7 linked regions of the Homo sapiens genome follow. The protein of the gene in region 1 interacts with the protein of each later gene in a biochemical or structural test. Each region holds a gene or a part of one and is shown in the gene's direction. Other genes may lie near its edges. The genes, in order: NFKB1, STAT3, MTPN, HDAC5, IRF2, DPF3 and NFKBIE.

Evidence for each region.
Region 2: the proteins of NFKB1 (region 1) and STAT3 form a complex in vitro, tested with the Homo sapiens proteins (one study listed by BioGRID).
Region 3: the proteins of NFKB1 (region 1) and MTPN form a complex in vitro, tested with the Homo sapiens proteins (one study listed by BioGRID).
Region 4: the proteins of NFKB1 (region 1) and HDAC5 form a complex in vitro, tested with the Homo sapiens proteins (one study listed by BioGRID).
Region 5: the proteins of NFKB1 (region 1) and IRF2 form a complex in vitro, tested with the Homo sapiens proteins (one study listed by BioGRID).
Region 6: the proteins of NFKB1 (region 1) and DPF3 form a complex in vitro, tested with the Homo sapiens proteins (one study listed by BioGRID).
Region 7: the proteins of NFKB1 (region 1) and NFKBIE form a complex in vitro, tested with the Homo sapiens proteins (one study listed by BioGRID).

The regions. Positions count from the first base shown.
Region 1 is NC_000004.12:102,598,859-102,602,358, forward strand, and holds part of NFKB1 (nuclear factor NF-kappa-B p105 subunit), read left to right. Parts: exon of another isoform or gene 1-877; intron 878-2,036; coding exon 2,037-2,151; intron 2,152-2,786; exon of another isoform or gene 2,787-3,173; intron 3,174-3,500.
Region 2 is NC_000017.11:42,378,443-42,381,942, reverse strand, and holds part of STAT3 (signal transducer and activator of transcription 3), read left to right. Parts: intron 1-3,500. UniProt on the Homo sapiens protein: Signal transducer and transcription activator that mediates cellular responses to interleukins, KITLG/SCF, LEP and other growth factors. Once activated, recruits coactivators, such as NCOA1 or MED1, to the promoter region of the target gene.
Region 3 is NC_000007.14:135,967,360-135,970,859, reverse strand, and holds part of MTPN (myotrophin), read left to right. Parts: intron 1-3,500. UniProt on the Homo sapiens protein: Promotes dimerization of NF-kappa-B subunits and regulates NF-kappa-B transcription factor activity. Plays a role in the regulation of the growth of actin filaments.
Region 4 is NC_000017.11:44,113,642-44,117,141, reverse strand, and holds part of HDAC5 (histone deacetylase 5), read left to right. Parts: intron 1-1,146; exon of another isoform or gene 1,147-1,230; intron 1,231-3,500. UniProt on the Homo sapiens protein: Responsible for the deacetylation of lysine residues on the N-terminal part of the core histones (H2A, H2B, H3 and H4).
Region 5 is NC_000004.12:184,419,051-184,422,550, reverse strand, and holds part of IRF2 (interferon regulatory factor 2), read left to right. Parts: intron 1-2,982; coding exon 2,983-3,082; intron 3,083-3,500. UniProt on the Homo sapiens protein: Specifically binds to the upstream regulatory region of type I IFN and IFN-inducible MHC class I genes (the interferon consensus sequence (ICS)) and represses those genes. Also acts as an activator for several genes including H4 and IL7.
Region 6 is NC_000014.9:72,621,602-72,625,101, reverse strand, and holds part of DPF3 (zinc finger protein DPF3), read left to right. Parts: intron 1-3,500. UniProt on the Homo sapiens protein: Belongs to the neuron-specific chromatin remodeling complex (nBAF complex).
Region 7 is NC_000006.12:44,260,109-44,262,551, reverse strand, and holds part of NFKBIE (NF-kappa-B inhibitor epsilon), read left to right. Parts: intron 1-703; coding exon 704-926; intron 927-2,012; coding exon 2,013-2,101; intron 2,102-2,269; coding exon 2,270-2,443. UniProt on the Homo sapiens protein: Sequesters NF-kappa-B transcription factor complexes in the cytoplasm, thereby inhibiting their activity. Sequestered complexes include NFKB1-RELA (p50-p65) and NFKB1-REL (p50-c-Rel) complexes.

The DNA.
Region 1 (3,500 bases):
AAGTTCCCTCCTAAGACCCAAGCACACTCACACAAGCCGGCTCTCAGAGAGGCCACAGATTTGGGACTTGGAGAGACCAGAGGATCCTCATAAGAGCATAGGTATAGGGCAGCTTTTGGCCATCACAGCCCAAGTCTCTTGTTTTAATTCAGCTCGTCATATTTGGCTAATAGTTTAAATCCTGTGGCCATTAGTCATCATAGAAAATATAATAAAGAAAAATATATAAAACTTCTGCTATTGGGGAAATTCCCATAAGGGTGTGAGGATTTGAGGGGGAGGGGGAATGTACTTCTGCTATGAAATGCTGAGCGGCACATGGAAATTTTCGAGCAGTTTTAGAAGTATGACCTTTTTCTTGGTGTATGTGCATCATGTCTATGTCAGAGTTTAGGCCCTTTTCAGAAGTCTTCTTCCAGTATCACATTTCAAGAAGCAATAGTGAAACCCTGAGATCATCCGTTTTAAAATATTTCTCAAGTAGCAAAATCACAATTTAGTTTTTTAGGCTCTTCTGTGCCGGAGTTAATCCCAAGTACGATATACTTGCTATTGCTAAGGAAGAGGCTTGAGTAAAGTGGCACCTGATAGCTTATTTTAGAGAAGATCCAGCCTGTACCTCGTGTCCCAGATGTAGTGCTGCTGCGAGATGCTTTAGTGTGCTCTGCACCTCAATCTGTCCATGCTCTGGAGTGGTCATCTTCTTAGACATTCATCTGAATGTCTTTAGAACAGTGCACATGTATCCCCTATGCAGGATTGCTTAAGGGATTAAGAGATGGCTTTGGAGTAAGACAGGCCTGGGCTTGAATCCCAGCTTCACCACGTATTGGCCTTGACTGAGTTATATGACGCCTGCAAGTCTCAGTTTCATTAGCTGAAAAGTGAAGATAATATTACCTAACTCATAGGATTATTGTTATAGTAAAAAGACAATATATATCAAATGCTTAGCATAGTCTGGTAAATCAAAGCTCCCAACAAATAGTAGCCACTGGTAAAATGATTGTTATTGTTATTGTTTTGAATTTTAATAGTATGTTTTTTAATAATTAAAAGAATTACGCTCCTGTGAGTGACTTTGACACCACCAGTATGTTCAGCCTCATTAGCGTAAGCTCTTAAGTTCCTTCTATCATTCTTATTTTTGTGCCTCTACTGCATGCTAGGGTTGTAAGGCTGACTCAGACAGAACCTGCCCCAGAGATGACAGGACAGAGAACGAGAAAAATGTGTAGAAAACTGCAGTTGCATAACCAAGCAGTAAATTTGAGAGGGACAACTTGCTCCACCTAGGAGGTTAGGAAAGTATTCTCTGAGGATGTCAGGTTTGAACTGGAATATAAAGGATGGAGTAGGCATTGTTCAGGCAGAAGAAAGGAGCAAAAACATTCCAGGCAGAGGGAATATTTGCTGGAATGTTTGCAGGAGTGGTGGGAAATACAATCACTTTGTTTCTTCACAAGTTTACTGCAAGAATTTTCTTCCAGTAGTTAAAAGCTTCACTCCATTCTCCACTCTTGGGATCTGGAAAGATCTTTAAAAAACCACCACACTGTATTTTGGAGGAGGGCAGCAGGGCTAAGTGAGGTAACTAAGTTTTTCTGAACAATTCCTAGTGCCAGGCATTCATTTTACATAGAATCTGTGTGTCAGGAAAAGTCAGGGGGAAAGGTAGAGAAGAAAACCGCCCAAAGCCATGGTATAGAGGCAGGATTGGGATTTAAGCTTAGGTCTTTCTGGGCTGGAAGCCTCAGTGTGTTTATACATCAAGGGGTCAAGACCTGAATGCTCCCAGAGGCCAGGAAGGTACCACAAATAACGTAGCAGCCTTGGGTAGGCAGTTGGGAGGGACCAGTCCTCTGGAGACAGCATCCCACCTCAGATTCAATGCATTTTATAGATTCAAAACATTTTAGGGCCAAATAAAACTAGGTATGAGAGCAGATTCCATTCTTGAGTCTAATCACATCTTGGGAATCTTTTCTTTTTCATTAACATTTTAGTTAATTATTGCCACTGTGTTTTCATTCCAGTGTCTTACACTTAGCAATCATCCACCTTCATTCTCAACTTGTGAGGGATCTACTAGAAGTCACATCTGGTTTGATTTCTGATGACATTATCAACATGAGAAATGATCTGTACCAGGTAAGCAGAAATCTCAAGAAAACAACTGAAGAAAAATCTGTAGTTTACTTTTTCTTCTGTTATGTTTGGGTGCATGTTATTTTTAGTAATGTTAACAGTAGCAAAAACAAAAACAAACCTTTGTAGGTAATATCTAAAATCCCATTAGTTGAGAATGTTACTTTATGATGTAGGATCCTTTGATCTGTGGGTATAACAGCCATCAAGCCACAATGAAATTCAGCATCCCGCTGGGGGAAGGCAAACTTTAAACTTTAGAAATCAAACAGTTTTTTCATTTAAGAGGGAGAAACTAAAGTAAAAATGTCACATCTGTCAAGAAAAATAAAGTTAAAAAAAGTTTGAAAAGCCAGTAATTTATAATAATTTTGAAGTCTACTGAAACATACCTTGACAACATCCAGATTAAATGTATATCAAATGAAGCATTCTGAAATCACCACACAGAAAGGTTAAAAGTTTGCTTGAGGAGGAAAAGGTGTCTTTCAAAAGCAGAAAGACAGCTCCAAGTGAGGAAAAGTGGGAACACCAGAGTTTTGCCCAAATCAGGTTTTCTTAGGAATTAATTAGGTGGGCTGAAAATACAAGTTGAGGAACTGTTTTTTCCAGAGGTCTTCCAACACTGCAAAGGGAGAGTTAGCTGGAGACACAGCGAGGCCCTTTGATGGGCATATGCAGAATTCAGGGAGAGGCAAGGAGCCTGGGAGCCACTTCGGCAGAAGCAGAGCTTGGACGTTGGTGATGGGAGCCCAGTGACCCCAGCCAGCCTTTCTGGCTGAGCGACTGCACTGGCATGAAACCAAGATGGGGTTCGGCTCCTGAGGTTTCCTCCTTCCTGCCCCTGATTGCTTTTCCCACCTCACTGTCTTTCCCCTACTCCCACCAGTCTGCTGTATGGGGCTCCTGCCCTTGCCCACTTCTTACCTTTCCATTTGTCTCCTTCCCTTCATCGACCCGAAGCATCTTCCTCATCCTCCTTGGAGAGATGGTTTGCTGGTTCACGTGTATCTCTCACTCCAAAACTATGGCCAAAATCCTGTGTAATTATTTACTTAGTAAAGATATTTGTTCCTGCTCTCTCAGTTTTTATAGCAGTGATGTGAATCATTTCTATTTCCTCACTTTAAAGGAAAATGCTTTTATTATTTTAAAGAAAATTAATTAAAACTTCATTTTCTTTAAAGGAAATTAAAATATCTATTTTCTTATTTTTATTTCCATTCTTTAAAATGTGCTTTAGGCTGGGTGCGGTGGCTCACACCTATAATCCCAGCACTTTGGGAGGCCGAGGCAGGCGGATCATGAGATCAGGAGATCGAGATCATCCTGGCTAACATGGTGAAACCCCG
Region 2 (3,500 bases), on another chromosome or scaffold:
TTTAAATGTCATTAAAATAAGTTATTTTGTCCTTTTTAGAAAAGTAATAACATGCTATTATAAAAAAAAAGACTTGTAGGAATATAAAATGTGTGTTTTACATGTATCCTGTTAATTGACTTGCTTTTATTCAGATTTTTTGCAGCCCTTTCTGTTTACCAGGTTATCTTGGAGACATATTTATTCCAAATTCCTTTTTTTTTTTTTTTTTGAGATGGAGTCTCGCTCTGTCGCCCAGGCTGGAGTGCAGTGGCGCTATCTTGGCTCATTGCAAGCTCCGCCTCCCGGGTTCACGCCACTCTCCTGCCTCAGCCTCCCGAGTAGCTGGGACTACAGGCGCCCGCCACCACGCCCAGCTAATGTTTTTTTTTTTATATTTTTAGTAGCGACAGGGTTTCACCGTGTTAGCCAGGATGGTCTCAATCTCCTCACATTGTGATCCGCCTGCCTCGGCCTCCCAAAGTGCTGGGATTACAGGCGTGAGCCAGCACGCCTGGCCTTCCAAATTCCTTTTAACAGCCTAGCAAAAGAATAATAAGGAAGGTAAATCTGCCCCTACAAGAAAATAATGCTTCGACGATCCGGCTTTCCTTCCTGCTACCCCCAGCCATAAGAATAAATGACCTTGCTCATCACTGAAATTTTACCTGACCTTTGAATTTTTAACTGCGTCAGCCAAAGAACTTATATTTTGAGTATTCCTAAGGTGATTGCTATTGTAGTTTTGAAACACTTGGTTGGTATGTTTGAGGGTTTCATGGTCCAAAGTTACTATAGCAGTTAAAAGAGTGGACTATCAGGTCAGACCTATTGGGCTTTAATCCCAGTTCTGCCTTCTCTTAGACCTTGGGCCTGTTGTTTTCACTTCTCTGGTTTTCAGTTTCTCTGTCCACAATTGTGGAAACGAGGTCCACTTGTAGAGTAATTGAGAGGATGAAGCAAGATGATGCATATCAAGTACTTTGCATAGTGCCGGGCAGACAGGTAACATTCAAGTGCTAATAATTACTATTATTACTATTTATTTTTTGAGACAGGTTCTCACTCTGTCACCTAGGCTGGAGTGCAGCGGTGAGATCACAGCTCATGACAGCCTTGACCTCCTAGGCTCAAGTGATCCTCCTGCCTCAGCCTTCGGGGTAGCTGGGGCTACAGGTGTGTGCTACCACCCTCAGCTAATTTTCTAATTTTTTTGAGTCAGGATCTCGTCACGTTGCCTAGGCTGAATTACTCTTATTAAAAACTATAATATCAGGCCGAGTGCGGTGGCTCACGCCTGTAATCCCAGCACTTTGGGAGGCCAAGGCGGGTGGATCACCTGAGGTCAGGAGTTCAAGACCAGCCTGCCCAACAGAGTGAGACCCCCCCCGTCTCTACTAAAAATATAAAAATTAGCCAGTTGTGGTGGTGGGCACCTGTAATCCCAGCTACTCGGGAGGCTGAGGCAGGATAATCGCTTGAACCCGGGAGGCGGAGGTTGCGGTGAACCGAGATCGTGCCACTGCACTACAGCCTGGGTGACAGAGTGAGACTCTGTCTCAAAAAAACCGAAAAACAAAAAGCATAATTAGGGTGGTAACGCTTATACATAGGGGCAGGTGGAATAAAACATAATTAGGAGGTCGGGCATGGTGGCTCACGCCTGTAATTCCAGCACTTTGGGAGGCCGAGGCGGGTCAGGAGTTCAAGACCAGCCTGCCCAACATAGTGAGACCCCGTCTCTACTAAAAATATAAAATTTAGCCTGTTGTGGTGGCGGGTGCCTGTAGTCCCAGCTACCCGGGAGGCTGAGGCAGGAGAATTGCTTTTGAACCCAGGAGGTGGGGGTTGCAGTGAGCTGAGATCGCGCCGCTGCACTCCAGCCTGGGAGACAGAGCAAGACTCCGTCACAAAAACAAAAAACAAAAAACTGTCATATCAAAAACTAAACTAAAATGGTAATATCTGTTAGATATTACAAAGTCAGGCAAATTATGATTCATGGCAGCCACTAATGACCCAAAGGAGAGAAAGAATAATTAGCAGATTCTAACCTAATGGGAAAAAAACTAAATGAATAGGGATGGGGGACTTACATTCTGTTAGAGGAAATTGAGGCTGTCATATAAAAGGAATAGGTAAGGCAAACTGTAAATTCCTGTTTACACAAATGCCCTTCTGATAAATCTCTGCATTGCCCACAGTCCATGATTACCTCTCCCTTATTTTAAGTAATATTTAACACATTAAAAATGGATTACCACCCAAGGAATTGCTCCCGACCCAGAAAGTGCAGGTAGTGTTGAAGGTTTGAGGGGAAGAGGAATGATTAGAGTTGGTTGTGTCTCAGGAAGAAGCCAACAGGAGGAACCTTATTTTGAGTCAGGTAAAGAAGGTGGGAGTGAGGAGGCATCCCGGTGGCCAGGTATGAAGCTGGGAGCTGATTGCTGCACATTACTCAGCTGAATTAAATGTGCCCTCACATCTGTGTGTGTGCGTACATGCAAATGTACATGTGTATGAGTTAGTTGGAGGGGTAGACCTTTATTTTCCTGTCCTGTAACTTTCCTTTGCAAACTAATCTGTATTCAGAACAGTGTTGCAGTTAAGAACCACCCAGCTTGTCCATGAAACAGGTTCTCTCACCCCATCTCCCCAGTTTTAGAGAAGGCAGGAAAGAAAAGGCAGTGCTTTTCTTTTTTCCTGGCCGTATGCGGGGCAGGAAGAAGCCAGCAGAGCTTGAAAGAGAAAGTAAACCTTCTGGGAAATAAACGGCTTGGCTTCCCTATTGTGGAGGAGGAGTGCAAATTATTAGGGGGATGTTTGGGTAGTTTTTGTAGAAGCCATTTCTGAAAACTGATTTGGATTAGTGAAGGTAAGCCCAATTTAGGAAAACCCTGCCCAGTCTGGTGTCAGCCACCTGTTTCCCGCTTTGTTTGATTGATTTGATTAGTTTGTGGTATTCTGACCTCTCATTTTTATTACAAGAGTTGGAAGATTTGAGTCTGAACTTGAGCACCTGCTTCGGTGAAAGCTTCCTAAAATGCATGTTTTTTCACATTTTTTCTCATGTTCATTTTGTTTTGCTTTTTAGCAAACACTTTTTCTGACAGAATCTAAAAGCATTAGACTTTTCTTGTTTTCCCCTTCTCTCCCCACAATGTAATCTTGAAAACCCAAATGTTAGCTGTGTAAATTACCTCTCCCGTAAACCAAACAAAGTGCAATATTGCATTGAGTTAGCATTGAAATAGTCGGCCTTTGAATTTTTTTCTACTTGTGGTTTAGACATAATAAATATTTCATCTCAGACTGACTTTCTCGACAAATCAGTTTTGCATTTGGGCCTCTTTTCATCAGTATGTTTAGGGAAAGCACATTTATTGAAACATTAACCAAAATGAAACATAATTAGGAGGCCGGGAGCGATGGCTCACGCCTGTAATCCCAGCACTTTGGGAGACCAAGGCATGTGGATTGCTTGAGGTCAGGAGTTCAAGACCATCCTTGCCGACTTGGTG
Region 3 (3,500 bases), on another chromosome or scaffold:
ATGTCAGCTTGTATAAGATACAGGTGCCCTCAGTAGACAGAGAAACATTAGTATAGATTCTTTTCTAATTATTAATGCTTTTAGTCATTTTAAAAAATATATAAAATAGAGGAAGATCTTTTTTTACATTGGAACATAAATGTTCATTCAGATGTACATAGGCTATATAAAGTGTTTTGGTTTGAGATTCTAAACATTTTCCTTTTATTAGTGCAGATAATTAAAAATTTAATGAATTAAAACTGATAGAAATTATAACAATATTATGAGCTTGTTATTTAAAAAAGCAAAGCTGTATTGAATAAAGTAAAATATCCCATTGACTATTTTTCCTACCTATGTGGTTCCTCTCTTTAAAATATAAAATTGATTAGGTGTTTTTAAAACAGAAAAGAATAAAGAAGACAAAAATTGGCCAAAATTTTACTATTTAGATAACTCCTAACTTTTAAAAAGTAAAATTAAATTAATTCAGATGTGGATTTTAAAATGCCACAGTTAGGACTGAAAGGTAAAGATCTCCCCTCCCCAATGCCTGTGAACAAATCAGCCATTCTCAACAGGTCCATGTAATTAATTTCAGAAAAACATTGAAAATTTACTTACTCATCTGTTTTTCCCGCTTAAAAAGTTCTGTAAACACTTCTGCACTTTGCTTTCCACATTGAAATGTATTTATTCTTCCCTTTTTAAATGGTGAATAGTATTCCATTTTCTGGATGTTTATTTAACTATTCCCGTATGATAAACATTTTGTTTCCAGTGCATCTTTGCAATTAAACAGGATTGTCGTGATCACCTTTGTACATATACCTTGACAACTTTTGAGACTATATCTGCATTACTCTCTTCATGAGTTTCGTCAGCTTAGGCACACATTGGCAGACATGAGACCGATGGTTCCCTCACACCATCAACAGCACTGGGCATCATCAGACTTTTTAGATTTTGCCATTTGGATAGGTGAAAAATGATTGTTTATGTCTTTTGTTTATTTTTCTTTTAGTTGGTCTGTTTTTTATTGGTTTGTATAAACTCTATAAATTAGGGAAATCAGTTTTTTATCATGTTTTGCAAATATCGTTCCCAGTTAATCTCTTGACTTCATTTATTTTCTTATTCTACAATGGTCTTTTACTTTTTGTGGGGTTAAATGTATCGCTTTTTTTCTCTTTTGTGACTTGGATTTTGTATCCTGTTTACAAAGACCTTTTCTCTTCTGTAAAATTACAAATAAATTTGCTCTTCTGGAACTTCATTTTTTCTTCCATTTTGGACATTTGACCTTTCCATTATTTATTTTGAAGTAAGGCATGAAATAAGTGTATACTTTTTTTTTGACAGTTCTCATACCATTTATTATTATAGTTCCTCTTTTTTTTTTTGCACGTTAAGTGGTATATATTATAACAGATATTAGGAAAATGCAAATTAAATCCACAATGAGATACTACATTATAACTATTAGAATGGCTAAATTGGTAAGACTGAGAAGCTCTAAGGTGAAATGTTCAATAAATCATATTTAAAACTTCTTATCTGTATTAAGTAAATATTATTTTGTTTAATATTTTTTCTAGTAATTTCTGACATTCTTTTTTTTTTCTTTTTTTTTTTTTTTATTATACTTTAAGTTTTAGGGTACATGTGCACATTGTGCAGGTTAGTTGCATATGTATACATGTGCCATGCTGGTGCGCTGCACCCACTAACTCGTCATCTAGCATTAGGTATATCTCCCAATGCTATCCCTCCCTCCTCCCCCCCCCCCACCCCACAACAGTCCCCAGAGTGTGATAATCCCCATCGCAAGAACAAAAAACCAAACACCACATATTCTCACTCATAGGTGGGAATTGAACAATGTAGTTCCTCTTTACTAATAATTTGAACCATCATCTTTATCATAAACAGATTTCTTGCTCTTTTTCTATCTATACCAAACTGATTTAATGATGTGTGGTTTCAAAATAGGTTTTAGTATCTCCCTCTCACATTCTCTTTAGGATTTTTGCAGGTGATTCCTTAAAATTTTTTTTCCCATAATCTCAAGAAAAATATTAGGATGATTTGAACCTACCTAAAACTTAACCTGTATCTTTTAATAAGCATTAAGCTTTTTTTTTTTTTTTCTGGAATGCTGGGATCGTGTGATCTGTGGGACATAATACTTTAACTTTTAATTCTTTATGAATCATCTTAGGAGGATGTCATGCACTGTGAGAATGTGCCATATCAAAGATTCAAAACAGAGGAAGTGTGTTTAGATAATCAAATCACAGCAAAATTGGTGATGAAAGTTAGTTTATGGTATTACATCACAGGCCACCTTGTAATAAGAAAAATGGCTGAAAGTAATTTTTTTGCAGCTATATCTTTACTAAATAATTCTGATAAGCTTAGAAGCTTGATTTTTTTTTTCAGTCCACAGAAAATTACCAGTGTAAAGAGGAGCTGTGATTACTGAAAGAAAAGAAACCAAAATGTAAGAAGCTGACCCAAGAAAGTGAAGGGCAAAGAGCCATATTTACCTTAAAGTTTCAGAGGCCTCAGGCAATAATTAATATGTATAAGCGTAACCTTGAGCTTCACGAAAAGTTTAAACTTGGTTACTTTTCTCTTATTTACAAAGTCAGAGACATGTATAACATATTTTAGGAAGATTTCAATTTGACATATAAAAAAGAATGAGCATTTTGATACTTAGGCCTAAAGTAAGTATCTGAAAAATACTGAAAAATGGAGGTATTAAAAAAAAATTGTAGGCCAGGCATGATGACTCATGTCTGTAATCCCAGCATTTTGGGAGGCCAAGGCAGGAGGATCTATCACTTGAGCCCAGGAGTTCAAGACCAGCCTGGGCAACATAGCAAGACTTCCATCTCAACCACAAAAAAATTGTAGGTAGTAAACACTTTAAACATAGTACAATAGACGCTCATTATGGCACTGTCCTTTAGGGATTTGGAATTGCATTATTGGTGAAACCATAGCATAGAGGCTAAATGTGTTGGCTTTGGAATTAGATCTTCCAGGTCTGGCCTTCTTACTAACTAGACACTTTGGGTGAATTAAGCACTCAGAACTTGAGTTTCTTCAATTGGTGAAAATGGGAATGATTGTAATACCTACATAATAAGTGTAAACTGTGTACCATTGTGCCTGGCATATGGTGAGTGCTAGTAAATATTAGCTGTTGTTACTAATCAGCATCCTCATAAATTTGTTTAGAAGCAAGATTACTTACAGAGCAACTAGTCCAGCTCCCTTATTTTATAGATAAGGAAAAATTAAGTGTGAAAGCCCTTGACCAGTATCATAGTGCTATTTGAGATTGAAATTTAAATTCAGTTTTCCTGAACTTGGATGAGGGTTGGTTGGTTGGTTTTCCGCTACACCATTGTGTTTGCTAATGAAGTCATCTTGTGCTAGCTGTTACCTCTAATAAATTATTCTTTTTGTCCCACAACATCTGCTTGGCAAATTTCTTCTTCTTCCTG
Region 4 (3,500 bases), on another chromosome or scaffold:
TGGAGGAATTTCTTTACTATAGCAGAATGCTCAGCTTCCTTTTCGTGATGGTGGCTTCTTTACTTAGTGGAATGTTTGTGTTCCATACTTTTTTCTTAGTGGAGGTTTACAAGGGCACTGGGCCTTAACCTCCGTGTGCAGGTGCGTGGCATTGGGTGGGAGTGGGGTGACGTGTGTAGAGGAGTCTCGGCTCTCCTCTGAGTCCAGGTAGACTGCCTCTCTTCCTCTTGGGCCCTTCATATGGTAGATTGCTAATCTGGGGTCTTTTACTCTGAGATTTCCTGTTCCTCTTTGTTCCTAGGACCCTGTCCAGTGCTGCCAGAAATAGTCTATTTGGGGGACTCTAGGCAGCTTGATGTGCAGCTGGGTCTGGATGTATGCCTGTGAGGCTGTGTTCTAGTGGCCTGAGCTGGACCCTCAGCAGTTTCCCAGGAGGGTCCTGGGGCAGTGTGGTCAGAGTAGTGGCTGTCGTCTCCTCCTCCTCGGGTGTCTCCTTCCACACAGTGTTAAAGGTCCATCTTGCTCAACTTTAGCTCTCCACGGCCCATCGTACTCCTCATCTTTTTTATGTAGGGGTAGGTGGATATTTCTCCTTTTAGAGATAGGGCAATTGGGGCCTAGGATGAATACCCATTTGCAGGATTGTACAGAAGCAGCATCAGGGAGGAATCCAGACCACCCCACATTTTCTTCCCCATCATCCTTTCTGTAGGGTTTGCTGTTCTCCTTCAGATATTCCTCCCTCTGCCCTTGCCCTCATTCAGCCCCTAGGGGCTGGGACAGGTGGGCTGCCCAGCTCTGCCCTCTTGCTTGCCCCTCTGAGGCTGGATGGCGAAGGGAAAGGAGAGGCCTGGGTCCTCATCTGTCCCTCGTGCATCTTGGCTGGACACTACCCCAGCAAGCTCAGCCATGTCGGGCAGTAGTGCCAGCTACTTCTTTCCTCTGAGTTGTGACGCTGACCTGTCCAGGAGCCATCTGCAGTCCCTGCTTCCCATGGGGCTGGGGTCTAACTCTTGGCCAAGGGAATTGAAGCTGCCTAGCGGCATCTGTTGGTGGCTTGGAAAGGATTTTTCCCAGCTTTGGGGTTTCTTTCCCTTGCAGGGAAATGTGATAATCAACCCAGGATAGATGAAGTTATTGGGTTACCTTTCCAGATGCTGGCGGTCCAAGTTTCCCTTGCAGCTACCTCTGTGGGAGCTGACAAGAGTGTTGGAGGAGCTGGACGTGTCCACCAACGCAGGAGGCTGGCAGCTTGAGAGCCACTGCTGAGCCCTGGCCAGGAGGGGCGTCCTGAGTGGGCCTGTGGAATGGGCCCCGCGTCCTGCCTGGCTTTCCAGCTCCCCCCAGCAGGGGGAGATGCTGTCTTCTCTGTGTTGGGGAAAGAAGGAAAAAAGGAGGGGGCCAGGGATTGGGAACCTCATTTTAGGATTGTTGAGAGGCTTTGGAACTGGGGCCACTGCTTGGGGATGTTTGCTTGAGGCCCTTCCTGCAGAGTGTTCCTGGGGTTCTGGACTGGCTTTCCCAGTTGTGGGGTTCCAGCTGCCCTGGGCCAGGGAGATAGTCAGCCTCCCCCCAGCTCTTCCTTTCTGAGGGGCCTAGCGTCTGCTATTCCCAGAGCTTGGGCTGGCATCTGGGCTAGGGCTGGGGTGCCCAGCGCCTGGCAGAAGCCTGGAAACCACATGCCTTGGAACTCGGCGGAAGTAAAGTGAGACCACCGATTGAAGCCAGAGCACGCGGGTGTCCACTTCCCTGTAGAGAGCCCCAAGAAGGAAAGGTATGGGCCATGGGGCAGGAGATAAGAGGTGGGAAGGAAGGAAATGGTTAGTCCCCAGGGTCTGCTGCAGCCCCTGAGCGCCTCCCACCTTTTCCTCACTTCCCTGAACACTTGCTCCTCTTTCCCCAGAGTAAAGGACAGTAGGCTTTGTAAGGGGCAGAGCTTCTGGTTCCCCTCAAGTCCTCTCAGCGTAGGAGCTTTTCAGTTTGGCAAGTCCTCACTGAGTATCACCAACAGGCTCAGCCTGTGGAAGACAGAAGAAAATATGAGATGGGCCATCCCTGGTCCTCACAGTGAACATGTTAGCAAGAGAGACTGTTTTGGTGAGGGGCAGCAGGTGGAGACTGTGAGTGATTTCCTTCTGGGGCCCACTGCCCAGGAAGGTGGGAGCTGATGACTTCCCTCTGGCTCGGGCTGCCTACCAGCCTTTGACTTTATTTACCTCTTTTGCAGTCTTGGAATCACAGGCGGAGGCTATTGATGGGGTTGCCTGCTTCCCTGAGACCATTCCCTGATCTCTGCCTTTTCTTCCGGCAAAAGGGGGTTTGAGGATTAAGGCTGTCTTTATTTTTCTGGAACTGTTTGCTTCTGCATGTTCTCCTCAGTGGGGCTGAAAGGCTGACAGAACTTTCCCTCAGCTCAGACTCGGCCCAACCAGGTTGGAGGAGCTGCCCAGGGGCCTGGGACCCAGGCCAGCTCTGGTTGTACCCTCTTTGTGCCATTGCCCAGAAGAGCAGGCAAGAGTGAGGCCCACTGTGCAAGCCAGTCTGGGTGGCAGCGGGGCCATGGAGGAGGCGGCCAGGATCCTTCTCCCCAGTGTGGGAGGGAGACAAGCTTCATGACAACACCTGCCTGCCCAGCGCCTCCCAGAACCTTCACACTTTCTCTCTTTCCCTTTTCCAGGATGGAGGGCAGCAGCCCCCCCCCCCCACGCCTGCTCTCTGGGTGACCAGAGAAACTGGGGCATGGGTGTGGGGTGGAGCCAGGAACCTCGGTGTCCTGCCTTCCAGCCTTGGGCTCTGCCTCCTTCAGAGCCCCCAGGGAAGGCAGGCAGTGAGAAAGTGGGTCAATCCTGGCATGGGGCTGGGGTCTGAGAAGTAGACTCCTGGCCTCCCTTCTCTACTGAGATGCCCCCTGGCACACCTCTGTGCTCACTGCAGAGCGGGACCTGCTTCTCCCCTCCTCTTCCCTGCTCTATCATTCCAAAGAGATTGAAGGCTTAGAATGGAATGGCCAGAGAAGGCAGGGTCAACCCTGAGGGGAAGTAGAAGATGCCAAAGTAGGTGTTCACATTTTTCCTGGACTTGGCTTCAAATGAGAGGGTTCAGCCAACACCTAGCATGGGGCCTGGCTGGCACATGGCAGCTCCCAGGCCATGCTGATGGGCTCCAGCATGACTGGGCTCGAAGGGCAGGAAAGAACAGGAGGGTGGGCAGGTCTGATATCTGGGTCTCAGGGAAGCTGGCATCTCACACTTCATCCAGGGTGCTCCTGGGCCAGCCATTGGCTTTTTCACTGCACACTAAGCAGACCTTGCTTTCTTCCCTTTGGTCAAGGTCCCCCCATCCCCACAGCCTTTGGGCTCAGGAAATGGAACCTGGAGCCAGGGTTAGGCTCTTTTCCTCCTTCAGATTCAGAGGGCTAGGAGGTCAGAGTGCAGCCTTTGAGGGAGGGGCAGAGTGAGTCTGGGGAAGACAGTCCTGGCTCTGGGTGAAGCTCATGTACC
Region 5 (3,500 bases), about 82 Mb from region 1:
CATTCATCAGCTGATGGACACTCGGGTTGTTTCCATCTTTTGGCTTTTGAAAGTAGTGCTGCTATGAACGTTTATGTTTTGGTTTGAATGTTGGCTTAGAATTCTTTGGGTATATATCCAGGTGTAAAATTCCTGGATCATCAGGTAATTCTGTGTTTCACTTTCTTGAGGAATGGCCAAACTTTTTCTCCAGAGTGGCTGTACCATTTTGCATTTCCACAGCGATGTGTGAGGATTCCAGTTTCTCCACATCCTCACCAACGTTTGTTATTTGTGTATCTTTTTTTGGAGACATGTCTGTGGGTTAGTCTGTTTCATGTTGCTACAAAGGACTACCTGGGGCTGGGTAATTTATAAAAAAACGAGGCTTCTTTGGGTCAGGGTTCTAGGCTGTACAAGAAGCATGACCTTGGCATCTGCCTCTGTTAAGGCCTCAGGATGGGAGGCAAAGGGCATTACATGGCAAGAGAGGGAGGAAGAGAGAATGGTGCAGGCGACAGGCTGTTTTGAATAATCAGCTCTCACCGGAGCTAATGGAGTGAGAGCTTACTCATTACCACGAGAACGACACCAAGCCATTCTTGAGGGATCCTGCCCCATGACCCAAACACCGTCCACCAGACCCCACCTGCAACACTAGCGATCAAATTTTAACACGAGATTTTGAGGGGACAAACACCTGAACTATTCCAGTCTACTCAGGCCTGTTGCACATTTCAAGAGGGTCCATAGTGTATGTTGCTGGGTTTGGTCAGCGCTTTTGTAGTTGCATGGCTTTTGCGGTTTCTGTGGGACTAGGTTTGGTTGTGTGTGTGTGTATGTGTATGCATGCATGCGTGCAGATGCTTAAAAAGATCTACTTTATCTGTATCAATTTTGTGTCTTGCAAGTTAGATTTCAGATTGTGTCACCCTAGAACTCCTTTGATCTAGAAAAAAGTGCAACAGCAAATTCTTAAGAATCTCGGTGTTTAAGCATAAAGCTTTAGATTCTGGGCATGCACTTCAGGAAAAGCTCTTTCACGAAATGAATTTTCACTTGTATTCATTTTCATGTGAACATCAATAAATGGCATTAAGTGATTTTGCTGTCGATTTTCATCTACATTAAAGCATAAAATGTCACTCAGCCCCTTTCTGATCACTGTCCTTTTGAAATTGGCTAACCCGAAGCCCTCTCTGTGGATGATACAGAATGAACACCGAGGAATTTATGAAAAAGTCTCTCACTTTCAGTTCTCCTTTAATAACTGACTTTTTAGAAGATGGTAGAATTTTCCTTTTAACAGGTTTTGGGAAACTCTCCAATGTTCTGAAATAGTCTTTGTTCTGGCTTTGTGATTGGTTCTGTGGAGAGGCGCTGAATCTCTTTGGGGACAGCTGGGACCCTTTCTGTGTTTCACTATGTGAGACTGAAGTGGTGGAAACTCCCTGCTGACATTTCCTCTCCTTCCTCAGCATCTAGTGCAGGGATCCGCATACCTAGCAATTACCAGAACTGCCTTGAGAGCTTTGAAAGAGTACAACCTCCTGGGCTTTAATCTCCACAGAATCCAGGTCTCAACTGGTCTGTCATAGGACAGGGACTCTTCCAAATCTAAAAGCTGGGAGACAATGAGTGGGTGATTAAGTAATAGCATATGGAGTCGCATGACCTGGGTTTTGAACTTAGACACTTATTATCCTGCAAGTTCCTTGACTAAATAGTTAAAATCTGCTTCTTGGTTTCCTCAGCTATAAAATGGAAATCGTAACATATACCTCACTCAGTAGGCTGTGGGAGGAAGACAAAACTGAGGTCCCTGTGGATGTGGGTAGTCAGATGCACAGTGCCAATGGGACCTTAGTACCTGCCGGTACCGCCACAAGAGCTGCTTGGGCCAGGTTCCTCATCTGTAGCTTTACTAAGAGTACGGCTTTGTTACTAAACCATGGGTTTCCAATCATGTGTTTTTCAGGGTTGCTTGAGGCGGTTTTGAGTTACAGACCTCAACACTGAGAGAGATGTAGAGATAGTCTGATATAAGGATTGTATTGAGGGATGTTTCTCCAGAAAAATGTGTCATTTCATAACCTCTACCTCTTTGTTTGCACTTCTTGCTATTTCTTGCAGGCAGTAGACCCACAGGGATTCGAACATTACTTTCTATTTCTGTTGGATGCACAAGCAAATGGAGATATTTGGTTTCTGTGACAGTGGCCTCAGATGTACCCGACTTTTCTTTAGTAGCATCAAGGGTTTTGGAAACTTGTCTAATTTTTAATTTACCTAAGATAGCTGGAGTTACTATTTACCAAACGACGAGAATAAATTATAAGAGTAAGCATTAGAAGTTTCGGTAGGTGGCCATTTTTCTGTGGTTTTATAAAAAAAAGAGGCACAGGGCCGGGTGTGGTGGCTCACACCTGTAATCTCAGCAGTTTGGAAGCCTGAGGTGGGCAGATCACTTGAGGTCAGGAGTTCGAGACCAGCCTGGCCAGCATGGCAAAACCCCATCTCTACCAAAAATACAAAACTTGGCCAGGCGTGGTGGCACATGCCAGTAATCCTAGCTACTCAGGAGGCTGAGGTGGGAGAATCTCTTGAACCCAGGAGGTGGAGGTTGTAGTGAGCCGATATCGCGCCACTACACTGCAGCCTGGGCAACAGAGCGAGACTCTGTCTCCAAAAAAATATATTGAAAACTAGAAAAGAGGCACAAATAATGGAACACACAAGGTCAAATCATCACCTTTGACCTTGGAAAACATTCCTGCTCTGCAAGACTTCACGAGACTGACTGTCACTCGGGGTAGTCTATCAAGATTTGGGATCCAGCGGGGGAAGTGGGTTTGGTTTACAGTAGATTTTCTTGTCAGCAGTCAACACATTCAGCGATGCTTGCTGGGGAATCTTGCTGGCTAGACCTTCACAACCTTTTGCAATGGTGGGCCAAAACCCATGACTCCAGTTCTTTACCTTTTTTTTTTTTTTTTTTTTCAGGAAAAGAAGATTTTTCAGATCCCCTGGATGCATGCGGCTAGACATGGGTGGGATGTGGAAAAAGATGCACCACTCTTTAGAAACTGGGCAATCCATACAGGTACTAAAACTCCCTGCGGCGTTTATAGAGGAAGGCACTCTTGCTTAGTTTTGTTTTTATTACACATAAAATAGCCTGGCTTATGACCTCATGAAGATGGCTCTGAAAAACCTGTGACTTGTCCCTAGGCACATCCAGGACACATGGGGTACAAACTGCAGCCCTCAGAAGTAATGCTCCCCTCATCCCATACACTCTTAGTCCTTCAATTTCCTATAAATGTGGTATTCTAAGAAGTTCCCTAGGTGTTACCGGGGAATAGAAACTCAGTTGTTCTGATGCTATAAACTTTGGTCAAATTTATCTCCCCCCCAAAAAGGTAGTCAGAAATACCTGTATTTATTACAACCTTTACGTAGGGAGCTGTTTACAGGAATGGACTTTGTTGGAGCGTCAGATGAAAAAGAGGCACTCAGCT
Region 6 (3,500 bases), on another chromosome or scaffold:
ACATAATCTCAAATATCCTATTTCTCTTGTTGAGGAGATAATCTCCAAGTATCTCCCCAACAATATTACTTATTAGTATATTACAAAGGGAAAAACAGTAACTTTACAGTGAAAAAAATGGCAGACACTACCTTAACTATATAATCACAGATAACATTACAAGTAATAAGACGTACTGGCCTCAATTTCCCCCGATATGATGCGCCAAGAAGGGCACAACATTACTTTAGTGGTATTCTTGCTAAAAAATGTATGCATATGTGGATCTTATCATGAGAAAAGATCCAACTGAAATTGAGTGACATTTACAAAATCACTGGCTTGGATTTTTTGAAAGTGTCAAGCTCATGAAAGACAAAGAAACTGAGGAACTGTCACAGATTGAAGGATACTGAGAAAACACAACAATTAAATGCAATGAGGGATCTTGGATTGGATCCCTGGTAAAGAGACATAGGTTGGGGGCCGGGCGTGGTGGCTCACGCCTGTAATCCCAGCACTTTGGGAGGCTGAGGCGGGCGGATTACCTGAGGTCAGGCGCTGGAGAACAGCCTGGCCAACTTGGTGAAGCCCTGTCTCTACTAAAAATACAAAAATTAGCCAGGCATGGTGGCACATGCCTGTAATCCCAGTTACTCAGGACGCTGAGGCAGGAGAATTGCTTGAGCCCGGGAGAAGGAGGCTGCAGTGAGCCGAGATGGCACCACTGCACTCCAGTTTGGGCAACAGAGTGAGACTCTGTCTCAGAAAAAAAAAAAAAAAAAAAAAGAGACATAGGTGGGAAAACTGGAGAAATTAAAATAAAGTCTGTAGATTAGTTAACAGTATTACACCAATGGTAATTTTCTGATTTTCGTAATTCTGCTATAGTAATATAATATGTTAATATTAGGGCACAGTGAGTACAATTCTCTGCATAATTTCTGCACTTTTCTCTAAGTTTAAAATTATTTCAAATAAATAAATAAAAATATAGTGTGATGTTTCTCTAGCATCTTCTGAAGGTGACTAAGGTTTTAAAAAATATGTTTATGAACTTAAGATTTTAAACATATTTTATTTGTTATAATCCATTATAGGTAAAATTGTCCCATCTTTGACCAGTGGTAACATATTCAGGTTGGATCCTGAGTCCTTTTGACATAATCCTAATAGTATTTGATAGCTTCCTTACTTTGTAATATGTAAATATATTTATACATTTTATGCTCCAGACCTGGAATCACTTATTTCTCCCAGGACTCCTAATTCCTTTTAGTGGGCAATGGTCTTTAGAGAACATAATATGGGTGCTAGAGGTGCTAATTTTGCTGTTAGTCATTGTTTTGGAGCACTTTCTGTGGACAGAGGTAGAAAATATTTTTTGCTTGTTTTAAAGATACACTACACCATGAATTTATACTGATGCATCCAGTTCATACTTAGAACCAACTACTGACTTTTGACTTAACTTCATTGGCCTACATTTCTATTTTCTTTCAACCATGTTACAAAATCTTGCTCTTCAATAATACCAACATAATTACTCATTTGATGCACATAAAGCAGTCTCAGAATATTGATTCCAATATTTAAACCAATAATATAATTGCTGAACATTACACACACACACACATATATATGCAGATCTGCATTTATGTATGACCTTAAGGTATGTCCTACTAAGGATGTATTGTCAAATTAATTGTTTTATAGTCAGATGGAATAGTTTCTCTCTGTGTGGTTATGCTACCAATTGGATACATAACCAAATTCATTTGCCTCATTTTTCTTTTGTTTTTTTTAGGGACATATTGCTATTTAAATTTTGTTTTATGACTGTGTAAAATATTTATTGGTTCTAAAATCAAATTTATAAAGAAACATTATATTCAAAGAAATGTAGCTCTCTACTTACCTCTTCCACACTATTCCTTCACTCTGCATATAGGCAACCACTAAAAAATATGATTTGTCTTTCCATTTTGTTTAAATGTAAACATGTGTGTGTATATATGAATCCATGAAAAATGGTAACAAGTATATATGTTTTCTCCATCTTGCTTGTTTTCTCTGAATATCTTAGAGATTAATCTGGAGGAATATATAGACATTCTTCATTCCTTCCTACAGCTGCATAATTTTTACTTATCCAACCATTCCCTTATTGATGGACATTTAGGTTGACGCTGGTCTTTGGCTTTACAGATAGTGTAAATGTAGAGGATTTTTTTGTTGACTTGGCAGAGCCTTTGAGGAGGAGTCAGGGGGTGAGGTTGTTGGGGCACTAGGATTCCTCTCACATGGTCAGGGATTTACCCTGGATATCCGAGAATGGGATTCCCATTCTGCTGGAACTGTAGTAATAGGTGATTCCTGGTTCCTGGATAGTTGGTAGTGAGAGGTACTAAAATTGTGTTTGTCATGAGAGTTAGCATAAGCTGGGGGCTCTTGGTGGTGGAAGAGAAGAGAATATGGTGCTAGACAGTGGTCAACCCATGCAAAATGCACTTAAACTCTCAGATGCCTAGTTTTCCTTTGGGAAATTGTAATCCAGGATATTCTACCTATTTGTATTTCCCATGTCACTGCTGTAGTAGGGGTTATTACTGTTTTTAAGGCATTAATAACACTGTTTCTGACAAGTCCTGTCTGTTTTCTGTCTCCATCCTAACTTGTTTCTCCTTGTATTATCCCTAAATCAAATTGTCCTGTAGCTTATGCTGGCTCTGCAATAATGATGTAACTGTTTTGGCGTAAACTACAGTGTGCTCGTCTTCATCCCACCTCTCTGACTGTTCCTTTTCAGTCTTTTTTTCTCTGCCTGTCCTGTAAAGTTGGAGTACCCCAAGTGTACTTCTTCTCAGTAAACTCTTGGCCTTCTTCTCAGTAAACTCTTTTGGGTCCTTGATCTTTCAGAGAATTCAATGAAAGCTACGGACTTACTCTTTCCATAGAAAAATGTACATTTCTACCTATGTACAAAATTGTGTGTATCATTTCAAGGGGTTCATGGACACTTCTCCATGAAGACAAGGTCAAAGACATTTGCTCTCACACATTCTGGGCTTCCTCTCCTAGGACCTTCACTTGCCATCTAATTACAATGAATCCCAAGTCCATATCTCAGGCCCAGACTTCTCTCCTGCTCTCTTCAACAGCCTCCAGGTCATCCCTATCTGTAGAACATGTCTATAGCTGAGGTTGCCCTCTCCCTCCCATGAGTCTGCTCTTCCTCCCATGTCCCATTGGGTGGCTGTATCATCTGGCTTGCTGACCAAGCCACAACCCAGACGGCATCCTTGGCTTCTTCCCTATCACTCTCCCCATCTAATCAATGATGCTTAAATGGGAGCAAGACCCATTTCTTTCTCCATGCCGCAATTGTAATTCAGGCCACCATCATCACGCACCTGGATAGCTATAGCAGCTTCCTAACTGGTCCCCGGGCCTCTTGAATGAACCTCTCCCCCACTGGGTATCTACTCTTACATAGCAGCTAGTAAGATCTTTCTAAACTG
Region 7 (2,443 bases), on another chromosome or scaffold:
CGAGAGAATGTTATGCCCAGATACCTGTTTGTGCCCTGGCAGCCATTCCCAGCAGCCATACCAGTCCAAAGGCTGCTCACTTAGGAAACCATATGCCAGACACTGAGCTAGAAACTGAGGAGACAGACCCAAGTAAGACATGGCCTCTGTCCTGAGGTGCTTGCATCCTGGGCTGGGGGACTTGTATCAACAGCTAAATACACAGCCTGGTGACAAGAGTTGTGATAGAGACACATACCAGCTGCTATAGGGTCCAGTGTCTGTGTGCAGCAGCCAGGGAAGGCTTACAGAGGAGATGCCATCTGAATGGAGCCTAACAGAGAGTTTTGCCAGGGAGAGACTGCCCGGTGCCTCTATCTTTCCTCCTGCAGCCTAACCCCTGGGGGTAACAGAGGTCTCCTCACAGGGTGAGGGGCTAGACTCTCCTCCTACATGTCCTTTCTCCAGGGCCTAAGGTGACTTACAAGAAAAGCAGAGAGCTACTTTCTTCACCTTGCTTCCAGAATTGGGATCCCAAGAGCTTGGTGGGGGAGGGGTGTGACAGGGGAAGGGCTCGGTAGTATTTCCTTGGAAGAACAGGTTATGGCCTTTATAAGCTGCTTTCAAAGAAGATGCTGGCAGCTGGTGATTCTTGAGCCCAAGCATGTTCCCAGAGGTGGGAGCATGCTGCAGTGGCCCCATGACCCTCTATTTGTGCCTCCAGACAGCACTCCATCTGGCTGTACATCTGGACCAACCGGGCGCAGTTCGGGCACTGGTGCTGAAGGGGGCCAGCCGGGCACTACAGGACCGGCATGGTGACACAGCCCTTCATGTGGCCTGCCAGCGCCAGCACTTGGCCTGTGCCCGCTGCCTGCTGGAAGGGCGGCCAGAGCCAGGCAGAGGAACATCTCACTCTCTGGACCTCCAGCTGCAAAACTGGCAAGGTGTGGACAGTCTTTAAGACTGCCCTTAGGGCCTGTGGGATGAGGAGGGCATAGGAGATAGGGACCTCACTCTTGGGGAAGGGAGGGTCCCAGCTTGTCCATTGGTGCCCCTCCCACTGTAAGCACATAGATATTCAGTACATCTTTGCCAAATGAATGAATGGATGATTTGATTTCGAATTTAACCAGTACCTACTGCCTGCTGAGAAGAAAACTAAATCTTGCCCTTAAGATACTTAGTTTAATAGAGATTAGATGACCTGATTCATTCATTCAACAGAAATGTACTGAGGGTTTTCTATGTGCCAGACGTTATCCTAGGAGCTACACTTGCATCTGTGTGCAAAATAGAGAAAGATTGAGATGAGCAATAAATGTAAGAAGTGAACTATGTAATATGTTAAAAGGAAGTAAGTGCTGTAGTAAAAAGCAGAGCAGAGTGAGAGGAAGGAATGTGGGGAGTAGGAGAGTTGATATGATTGTTAAATAGGGTGGTCCGGGAAGGCCTCATGGAGCCAGTGACATCTGAATAGCGCCCTGAGGAAGGTGAAGAATGTAAATTTGAATCGAAATCTCTATTACTAAGCAAGGGTCGGGAGTGTCCAGACTAGAAAGGAGAGCAAAAAGGCCAGGGGAGCACAGAAGGAAGCGGCCCCTGAGAAAGGGCTGGGGGCATGAGGATCTTAGGTGGCTTTTCAGAAAAGGTGGCTTTCAGACTGGGCTTGAAGGCAGGTTGTGTGTGTGTGTGTGTGTGTGTGTGTGTGTCTGTATGTGTGTGTGTGTGTGTGTGTGTGTGTGTTGTAGTTTGTGTATAGGAGGAGGGTGTTCTTTGGGGGTGTCACTCAGCAGCCTGACCCCTGAAGCATGAAAGTTTCAATAACATGACTCTGAAAAGGTGGAAACTTTGAGTTCCTTTCCCCTTAGACTTTTGAGGGGGTTTTGGGGTTTGCATTTTAACAGTCTTGTGATTAGAGACATTGAGTGGGCTGTGAGTCCCTTGGGGCTGAGTGGTAGGGAGGTCCCAGAAGAGAGGGAGTTGGTGGATGCAGATCAGCAGCCCTCACCCTCACTCTCACCCCATCCCAGGTCTGGCTTGTCTCCACATTGCCACCCTTCAGAAGAACCAACCACTCATGGAATTGCTGCTTCGGAATGGAGCTGACATTGATGTGCAGGTGAGACAGCCAGCAAAGCACTGCCCGGCCCAGGGCCTGCCCCCACCTGACACATCCCCAAGTCCCCTGCCCAGCAGTCAGAAGTGGTGGCATTCACTTCCTTATCCAGAGCCCAGGCCCAGCACACTGCCTCTGAGGGCCTTGGCTGACATCCTTATTCCTCCCCAGGAGGGCACCAGTGGTAAGACAGCGCTGCACCTGGCTGTGGAAACCCAAGAGCGGGGCCTGGTACAGTTCCTGCTCCAGGCTGGTGCCCAGGTAGATGCCCGCATGCTGAACGGGTGCACACCCCTGCACCTGGCAGCTGGCCGGGGTCTCATGGGCATCTCATCCACTCTGTGC